Linked DNA regions of Homo sapiens. The protein of the gene in region 3 purifies or fractionates together with the protein of the main gene of each other region. This does not show direct contact. Each region holds a gene or a part of one and is shown on either strand. Other genes may lie near its edges. The genes, in order: PGAP1, ZBTB43 and TECTA.

Region 1 (3,737 bases), on a different chromosome or scaffold from region 3:
TCCATTCTTTCTTCAGAATTTCTTAGTAAATAACCTTATCCTGCATCACGAATATAAACCACCTATTTCAGGATGAAATTCATTAATAGCACCAATTTAGAACAAACTAATCTAGCAACTGTATGCCTTGAATGCAGTAAGTGTGTCATAAATATTTTTAAAATTAAATAAACAAAAAGCAAACAGATCACTCACTCTCTACCTTCTTTTCCTTTGGTAGGAGCAACAATAGCTAAAAGGGCAGGATTCTTTGAAGAATAAGACATATAAATTTTGCCACACTTATTGAGGTTTTTAAGAATGACAAGGTTCCTACAAGAAATATCCATTCATCACTTGGTTTAGATACTCACGCTTGATTTGTCTTTTTCTCCTACACAGGACATCCAATCCATCAGTAAGCGCTTTCATAATGTACCTTCCAAATCTATCCCCAGTTGAAATTTCTCACCATTCCCACCACTATTGTCCTAATCCAAACACTATTATCTCTTATCTGAACTACTCTAACAGGTTCTTTACTGGTCTCTCTGCTTCCACTCTTTTTGTTCTTGTTGTTGTTTTGCAAATCTTTTTAAAAAATATATTATAAATTGCTTATATTAGGTGGCACAAAAATTGTAGCATATGGTTTAGCAAACAAAATACCTGTTTGCCATTTCATTTTGTAAAAACATATACTATAGATACATTATAATCCACATATTATACAACTCACTATATAAAACTGTAAAATTCGATGGTTTTTAGTATATTCACCATCTCTGGTATATATTTTACAACCATCTCTGAAATCTAACATAAGATATTTTTTAATCGTTTCAAAAACAAAACTCTGTGCCTACTGGCAGTCACTCCCCATTTCTTCACTCCTCCCAAATCCTAGGCCTAGCAACCACTGATCTACTTTCTGTCTCTACGGGTTTGCCTATTTTGGATATCTCATATAATACGTGGCCTTTTGGAACTGGCTTCTTTCACATAGCATGTTTTCAAGGTTCACCCATGTTGTGACATGTATCAGTACTTCATTCCTCTTTTTTATTGAATAATATTCCATTATATGAATATGTCATATTTGATTCATCTATTTATCAGCTGATGGTCATTTAAATTATTTCCACCTTTTGGTTATTATATGCTGCTATGAACATTTATATACAAGTTTTTGTGTGGGTATATGTTTATTTTTCTTGGGTAGATACCTAGGAGTGGAATTTTTGGGCCACATGAGAGCTCTATGTTCAATATTCTGAGGAACTCCCAAACAGTTTTCCAAAGTGGCTGCACATTTTACATTTCCACCAACAATGTATGAGGGTTCCAATTTCTCCACATCTTCACCAACACTTGTTGTTATCCATCTTTCTTATTATAACTATCCTAGGAGGTATGAAGTGCTATCTCATTTTTTATTTATAGTTCTCTGATGACTTATGATGTTTTAGCATCTTTCCTGCTTCCATTCTTGCCCTTCAAAGGAAATTCTCTTCATAGTGAAGCCAGAGCAACTTTTTTTAAAAGTAAATCACACCTACCAGGTTGCTTAAAAATTTAATGTCTGACAATTCTGGTGTTGTAAAAGGATGTGGAGCAAAGGAAGGTAAAATATACTGCTTTTAGGAATATAAATTAGCACAATCAGTAAAGATTAAAAAGATACACATAACCTGTAACATGGAATTACACTCTTGGGTATCTAGCTTACAGAAGCACAGGTTTATGTGCTCCAGGAAACATATGGAATAATATTCATTATTTGTAATTGCCAATAAATGTAAACATTTATTCTGTCCAAAGACAGAATGGACAAACCATGGTATAGTCATACTACAGAATAATACAGAGTAAGGAAAATGAATGAATCACAGCTCACACAACAACTTGGATGAATGTTAAAGATAATGCTGAGTGAAAGAAGCCAGACACAAAATAATACATACTGAATGACTATATTCATATTACAAAATTTAAAAACAGCCTCATATACATAGATTGCATTAAAACTACAAAGAAAGTTAAGGAAATTACTCTCTTAACATTAGGACTGTGATTCTGTCAAGAAAGAAGGGAACAAAGTTTTAATCATGAAGGGGCACAGAAGGGGTTTCCAGGTTACTGGTAATCTACTTCTTGACTAGGGTTTTGGTTTCACGGGTGTTCACTTTATAATAATTTGTAACCAAATATCTATGTTCTATGTGTTTCTCTGTATGTAATATTTCAAATACAAAGATTACTTTTAAAAATCAGGTTATATTTTTCTTACCCAAAGCTCTCCAACAGTTTCTCATTCAAAGTCTTTTCCACAGCTTATATGATATGGCCCGTGGTTACTTTTCCATTCTTATCTCTTTTTACTTTCTCTAGTCACGATAGCCTCCAATGCACAAAACACGTTCCTGCCTCAGGACCTTCCCTCAGTCAAGCATCTCCTCAAATGTCATCTCCTCACAATGGCCTTTCCTGACCACCTCATCTAAACTAGCCACTTCCTGACCCTTTTATCTTCTACCTCCTGAGTCTGTTTTTGTTTCTAGCTTTTAACATTACTGACATATTTGTTTGATTGCTGTCTTCCTGATAAGCATATAAATTTGATGAGAGAGGGACTTTGTCTTGATATGCTCTGGATCCCTAATACCTGGAATACAGCCTGGCTCATGGTAGATACCTGTAGACACGTGCTAGATGAATAAACACGTAAATAATTGCACATGTTGAAACAATTCTAGTCTCATTACATAACAATTCTAGTCCATCAAATAACAAGAAAGCAGGTTTTAGTTTAAAACGAAATTAATTCCAGGTTATTTGGCTGTTACGCCAGAAATAACTGCTGTATCTCCAAGCCAGCATCAATTTGGAATCTGTACACGTAACTTCCCTATCTCACCTTTCTATGTTCCCCCCAGTACTTCCAAATCTCTCTAACTTAAATAACTCCAAAAGAAGAAAACGAATCTCTCTTGTTCTGCATAACATTAGTCACTGATTTACTTCCCTAATCAATGCTTAAGGTTCTGTTCTCTTTACCCTCCATTTCCAACATAAATGTGTTTCCTCTGCTGATTCCCCAAGGGGTTCCCCTTTATCATCTACTTATCCCATCCTACTCTATCTTATTCTTTGTACCCCTCTCTTTGCAAAGTGGTCTTCAACTTTTCTAAGTATTTCTCACATTATTCTCTCTCAGAGAAAATATTATATTTTGGTCTCTCTGTAAGCCCAGCACAGCACTTCACACACAGCATGCATTTCATTTACTTTATTTGATTCACCGAGTATGGATATGATTCAAATTCTTGAGTTGAATTTTATAGCTTTCAAAATTTACTTCCAGTAAGACTTACCTTGCTTATAACTTCCAGCATTACCAGGAAGAAAGAGAACTGGAATACCCGTCAAAGGGAGAATTTTGTGTTCTTCAGCATAGGATCCCTCTCCATAAAGATACAACTCATATGCGGGATAGCGTTTTGCCAGTTTCTTTGGAAGTTCTATTTTCTACATTTAAAAAAAAGTAGTTTCACTTTAATCAGTTTTATTAATACAATTCAGCCTCACCATATGCAATTCTGAATTACGCAAATTTGAAATAGTGCAATATAAAAATATTACTGATATTAAAACCACACTTCATACACAAAACAAGTTCTACTTGTAGTTTATTCATATAGAGAATCAGTCTTGAATTGTGTATATTTTGAACCATGTAGTCTTTAGGAAAACATAAA
Region 2 (2,671 bases), on a different chromosome or scaffold from region 3:
ATTAGCAGAGCATTTTCTGCCTGTTTGGAAGGTTTGATGTCCTGTTTCTCATTGAAGACTATTTACATGATCATTAGGACATTGCAGGAGAAGTCTGAGAGGTAAAAATACAGATATTCTGGGAGAGTCGTGGTCCTTCAGTTCTGCTGAAATCAGCATAGTGCCCTTGTCATGAGGAAGAGTTTCTGTTCAGCCAAGAGTGGTGGCACGCTTGGGTGGTAGTTTTGGAAGCAGTCAGTTGTGCTAGGACTTATTTAATATGTTGTGAAGAGAAGAGTGTCTTCTTGAAAGCCTTATGTGTCCATCAGCTACTAAATGTAGAACTTAAATAAGTTGCTCACATCTGTTCTTTTAGTGTTTTGTGGTATTTGAGGTTTTGGCAAAAATTGGGATTTTTTTATCAGGCAGCCAGAGCCTGGGAGGTGGTAGGGTGTCTGAAATGCTGGCCATGTTCAGAGAGGCAGGAGAAGGGGGTTGCTTTCATTTGAATATTAAAAGTGAATTTTTGTAAACTCTGGTTTTTACCTTTTTTTCATCCCCACGTTGAGTTGGAGGAATAGTCTCTTCTCTTCACCTCAATATAGCTTTAGAAAATCTTTATCCTTCCTAATAAGTTTGGATGGTTGTGGGTAACATTGTTCAAACAATCTTTCAGGGATCACGTCAATGGCCTACAACCAAGCTATTTGTCCCCTACTTTGAGTCTTAACTGTGGTTTTTCTTCAATCCCCATGGGAAAGGGCTTCAAGGCACCACCAGTGGTATTTAATATTCATACTTGGGGCCAGGCATGGTGGCTCACGCCTGTAATCCCAGCACTTTGGGAGGCCGAGATGGGTGGATCACCTGAGGTCAGGAGTTTGTGACCAGCCTGACCAACATAGTGAAACCCCATCTCTACTAAAAATACAAAAATTAGCCAGGCGTGGTGGCGCACACCTGTAATCCCAGCTACTCGGGAGGCGGAGGCAGGAGAATCACTTGAACCTGGGAGGCGGAGGTTGCAGTGAGCCGCGATTGCACCACCACACTCCAGCCTGCGCGACAGATCGAGACTCTGTCTCAAAAAAAAAAAAAAAATTCATACTTATGCCATGCTTTTACCTTTAGATACACACGTTACAGTAATCCACGTGGTGAAGTGCATGTCACCGTTAACTAAGGAAGGACTGCGGTAACTTACCCTGCAGGGCTGTAGGTTGCCTGCAGGCGCTCCAGGCCCCCAGCCTGTTGATTCCGATTTCTAGGTCTCATCTTCCTCTGGTCCCTTTTGGCCACTACTTTAAAAGCTTGCCCAAAGGGATCCCCTCCATTCTAGTGGGCATTTGCTGAACTAACCTGCCCCTAAGGCTGGCTTCTAACCACCGGGGAAAGCTGCTTAGCCTCCAGGGCTCCCTCCTTGAGAGGCTCACACACCCCCAAGCTGCTGTGGAGTGAATTTGAGACGGAGCAGAAGCTGCAAAGCTGTGCTTTCCCTGGGGAAGGGGATGTGCTGCGGCCTCCTGGGTGGGCGTGGAGAGGGCGCCATCACAACGAGTCCAGGTTTTTGCTTTTGGAAGGTCTCTGATAATTTAGGGGTGCTGGAAACCAGCACTGTGTTATCCCCAATCCCTCCTGTGCCACCAGTTTTGTGATTTAGGTTGCTTTAGTGGGTGACTAACTTTTGTTCAGTGAAACCAGGGTTTGTTTGGGGTTTTTTTCTTTGCTACTTACATATTTAAAGGTACAAGTTTCTTATTTCAAATCTCTACTGATAGTGCCCTATGGGGAGATGCTGGAACACATTTTGCAAATGTGACTTTTTTTTTTTTTTTTAATTTTTGCTTGAAGCCTGTGTCATGTTAGTTGCTGCTGCCTTCTTTCCTTTTGTGAGGTTCCCAATGTTTCGTCCAGAAAAGTACTTTATTTATGCAAGTCAGGTGACTCTTAGGCCACAAAACCATTTGATGATAAACAGATTATCATTAGGTGCATATCTTATTGATATTTTGTGAAATGTTATGCCTATGTTGCAAAAGTTGAATAGTTTTGTCTTTATATATTGCTGTCTTCAGTGTACAGCATGGTTTTACTTAATTGAATGTTAATGTTTAATATTTTCTTCTTATAGAAGAGATCATGCCCTTTTGTATGACATGTTTTAATAAATGTTATCTGTCAACTTTGTAAAAGTTTTGTTTTTCACTATGAGTAGATGACCACATCTTGTTTGACTCTGGGTTTTGCCACCTGAGAATACAGTTATATGGTGGCGTTTTGGTAAGTAAATGCCAAATAATCTGATCCAATGGGCAGTGAGTGACTGCCAGGCAGGCATTTATAGTAATATTTTAGACCCCCACTGGCCCCTTCGGGTACTTGGGGTGTGCTAGAGGCTCTCTGTGCCCCCTGGGCCCCCTTCCTGCTATGCACTTCTCTCCAGGAAGCTGGCCACGGTGGACCTGTCCTGGCTTCCGGTCAGGATCCAGAGACACTCTGGGTGGAGCCTGGCAGAACAGAGAACAGAGAAGTCAGGGAATTCATTCCCCTGGCTCCTTCCCGCCAGCTGTGGGTTGGCGGTGGCTGGGCTCCTCTGCCAAGGCCCACAGGTCCTGTCAGGCAACTTCTGGGGTTTAGTAGCCACACCTTCCCCTTGTCCCCTCAAGCCAGTCTCAGTCCTGACTCCCTGCTT
Region 3 (3,737 bases):
GGAGCAGAGAGGCTAAGTAACTTCCACAGGGACACCTAACCGTGAAGGGAGATTCACACCTGCCTGGCTGGCTCCAGAATCTGCGCTCTTAACCCTTGCACCCTACTAACTCCCCTACCTATACATGCCAGTCTATGTGGGGTGATGTAAGGGGTGACTCCCACCCCTCTGACTTGCTCTGAAAAACCCATCATTAGGCACCCAGACTTATAGATCCTTAGCTCTAGAAGGAATATTGAGAATTATCTAGTGCAACTCCTCATTTCACATGAAGACACTTACTAAAAGGGTAAGTGAAGGTCCCACAGCTAATTGTTGCAGAACGGGGATGCAACATGCATTTTATGTCACCTGAAGTCTAGTTTGGAAAACAAAAGCCAACACAGTACTGCCCAAGGAGATAATAAAATACGCATCCACAAACTGGAAGGGATGTGTTTTTATTCTCATTGCCACATTGGCAGAGATTTATTTATTAATAGACTAGTAGGAAGTAGATAGAAGAATGGACAGCTAGATCATTAGAGATATGCTATGTGCCCTCGAGGAGCTGGGACACAGAAAAAGTAAGACTGGAAGAGAAAAGCAGCCAGAAAGGCAGGGAAGGAGGGGAGCTATTTTGAAAGGTACCAAAACAGAGATGCCAGGCGGCAGGAGGGAGCCACGTATCTAAGACGATTTTTGCTCACACTTTAGTTTCGTTTGTTTTGGGCTAGCTTTGGGTCCAGAACACACAAATAAACAGCAAATGGGTCTAATCAGGGGAATCCAAAAAGAAATAAATAAAGAAGCCCATGACAAATCGGTTGGTATCTTTGTGGGTTCCATCAGCTTCTTGACCTCTCTCAAAAGGCTAGCAATAGGGCAGACCGTGTCTTTATCCCACAGCCTAGGAAATGGAAAGTGCTCTGTGTGTCTCTGGAATTGATAAGAATGACTTGATTTTTCAGTTGAATGGTCAGGAAGTGGAATTGCCTTTTTTCCATCCTTCGGGGAAGCTGGAAATTTATCGAAACAAAAACAGTACGACAGTGGAGTCCAAGGGCGTGGTGACTGTCCAGTACTCAGACATAGGTCTATTGTACATCCGGCTGTCCACCACATACTTCAATTGCACAGGGGGCTTGTGCGGCTTCTACAATGCCAACGCCAGTGACGAGTTCTGTCTCCCCAACGGCAAGTGCACGGACAACCTGGCAGTGTTCCTGGAAAGCTGGACAACTTTCGAGGAGATCTGCAATGGAGAGTGTGGGGACCTGCTGAAGGCCTGCAACAATGACTCGGAGCTGCTCAAGTTTTATCGAAGCCGCTCCAGGTGCGGCATCATCAACGACCCCTCCAACAGCTCCTTCCTGGAGTGCCATGGGGTGGTGAACGTCACTGCCTATTACCGCACCTGCCTTTTCCGCCTGTGCCAGAGTGGGGGCAATGAGTCAGAGCTCTGTGACTCTGTGGCCCGGTATGCAAGCGCCTGCAAGAATGCGGACGTGGAGGTGGGGCCCTGGCGGACCTATGACTTCTGCCGTAAGTTGGGGTTGGATTCTGGGAGAGGCTTTCTAGCTGGGAAATAGGTGCCATGCTGGGCCTTACTCAGGACTTCCCTTCCAGGTGGGACTGAGCTCAAGGGTGATGTTAATTACTGTGTATACCTACCCTAGTCTGATGTGTCCTCCCAAAGACTCATCACCCCAAACCGGAGAGCCTCTCATCTTTACTTTTTTTCCTAACTGCACAGTACCTCCTCACTGCAGAACAATTAACCATCCTATTTGCATGTGGTTTTATCTAGCAGAGGGTAGAGGCACCATGTCAAAGGACTAGAAATCTTTGTGATGGCTCTGTAGGTGCCTTCTCCCTTGGCAAAGAAGAGCCCCATTGATTTTGATAGGAAGTGATCGGCCAGGGCACCTTTGGGGCATGGAGATTAGCATGCTCCCCAGGGCAAACCTGACAATGGGTATTAAGAGAGTCCTGTGTTGCTGGCTTTTAATTTTGTCCCGAAAGTATCTGACCCCTCTCAGCAATGCAGTGGCAAGTACTAGTAGTAATTAGAAAACTTTCTGGGAAGACCTGATACGTAACACCCTTGATTATCAGGGAAGCCACAGGGAGAAGTAACATGGCAGAAAGCAGGACTCACTCGTGGAGCAAGAACTGCCTCATCTGGCCTTCAGCACACAACCCTCTCCCACCACAAAGGTGGGCCCCACACCAAAGCCAAGGCCACCATTAAGATTCCATCCCCGGCCGGGCATGGTGGCTCACGCCTGGAATCCCAGCACTTTGGGAGGCAAAGGCAGGTGGATCACGAGGTCAGGAGATCGAGACCATCCTGGCTAACATGGGGAAACCCTGTCTCTACTAAAAATACAAAAAATTAGCCGGGCGTGGTGGCGGGGGCCTGTGGTCCCAACTATTTGGAAGGCTGAGGCAGGAGAATCGCTTGTACCTGGGCTGCGGAGCTTGCAGTGAGCCCAGATCACGCCACTGCACTCCAGCCTGGGCGACAGAGCAAGACTCCATCTCAAAAAAAAAAAAAAAAAAAAAAGGATTCATCCCTGACGGCTATTTATCTGTCCTCCGTTTTTAATTGGCAAAAGTATTTTTTAATTTGAAATAATTTTAGACTTACAGAAAAGTTGCAGGAATAAGACAGTCTACCATTCTCTCAGATTCCCGAATCGTTAACATTGTAACACATTTTCTTTCTAATTTTGTCTCTGAAAATATACTCACTCTTTTTCTAAACCACTTGAGAGTAAGTTGCTGTCATTATGCCTGTTTGTACCTAAATATTTCAGTGTGTTTCCTAAGAATAAGCACATTTATATGACCATAACATAATCATTAAAATCAGGATATTGCCATTGATACAATACTATTATGTAATCTGAAGACCATGTTCATATTTTGTTAGTGGTTCCAATAATGTCTTTTACAGCCAAAACAAAAAACAAACCCTGGAATCCAATCCAGGATCACATGTTGCATCTTATTATGATGTCTCTGTAGACGCCTTTAATCTGGAGTAGGTCCTCAGTCTTTGACTTTCATTGTCTTAGCGTTCTTGAAGAGTACAGGCCAGTTATTTTGCAGACTGTTTCTCAGTTTGAGTTGGCTTATATTTCTTCCTGGTTCCATTGAAATTATGCATTTTTGGCAGGAATACCACAAAAGCAATGATGCGTCTTCTCAATGTGTCATATCTGGAGGCCTCTGATGTTGGTTTGTCCCGTTACACTGAGCATGATAGATTCGATCGCTTGCTTAAGGTAGTGTCTGTCAGATTTCTCCATTGAAAGTTACTGTTTTTTAATCATATAATTAATACATATTTTTCAGGGAAATACTTTAAATTTAGGTAGCTATTCTATTCCTTGAACTTGCATACACTAGATTTAGTATCCAGTGATGATTTTTGTCTGAATCATTTATTACTGTTTGTGAAATGGCAATTTTTTTCTAATTCAATGGCTCCTGCATTCATTAGTTGGCATTCTACTGTAAAGAGATGTCCTTTTCACCCATTTGTTTCTTTTTATTTGTTTAGATGACTCATGGATTCCTACTTAACCGATTGTATCTGTTATCATAATTTGTTTTATGCTCAAATTGTTCCATATACGGCCAGTGGGAGTCCCCTCCAGCAATGGTTTCTGTTGACATTTGCTTCATCATTCGTTGCTTTCCACGAGGCACGATGTACTCCGGGCTCATCTTGTACTTTCTCTGCTCTA

What was found.
Region 1: the proteins of TECTA (region 3) and PGAP1 purify together in Homo sapiens (affinity purification with mass spectrometry; one large-scale study listed by BioGRID and IntAct). This does not show direct contact.
Region 2: the proteins of TECTA (region 3) and ZBTB43 purify together in Homo sapiens (affinity purification with mass spectrometry; one large-scale study listed by BioGRID and IntAct). This does not show direct contact.

What each region holds. Positions count from the first base shown.
Region 1 is NC_000002.12:196,916,644-196,920,380, forward strand, and holds part of PGAP1 (GPI inositol-deacylase), read right to left. Parts: intron 3,508-3,737; coding exon 3,354-3,507; intron 1-3,353.
Region 2 is NC_000009.12:126,836,040-126,838,710, forward strand, and holds the end of ZBTB43 (zinc finger and BTB domain-containing protein 43), read left to right. Parts: 3' UTR 1-2,171; downstream 2,172-2,671. UniProt on the Homo sapiens protein: May be involved in transcriptional regulation.
Region 3 is NC_000011.10:121,128,688-121,132,424, forward strand, and holds part of TECTA (alpha-tectorin precursor), read left to right. Parts: intron 1-950; coding exon 951-1,524; intron 1,525-3,737. Other genes in the region: TBCEL-TECTA protein, read left to right, coding at 951-1,524. UniProt on the Homo sapiens protein: One of the major non-collagenous components of the tectorial membrane. The tectorial membrane is an extracellular matrix of the inner ear that covers the neuroepithelium of the cochlea and contacts the stereocilia bundles of specialized sensory hair cells.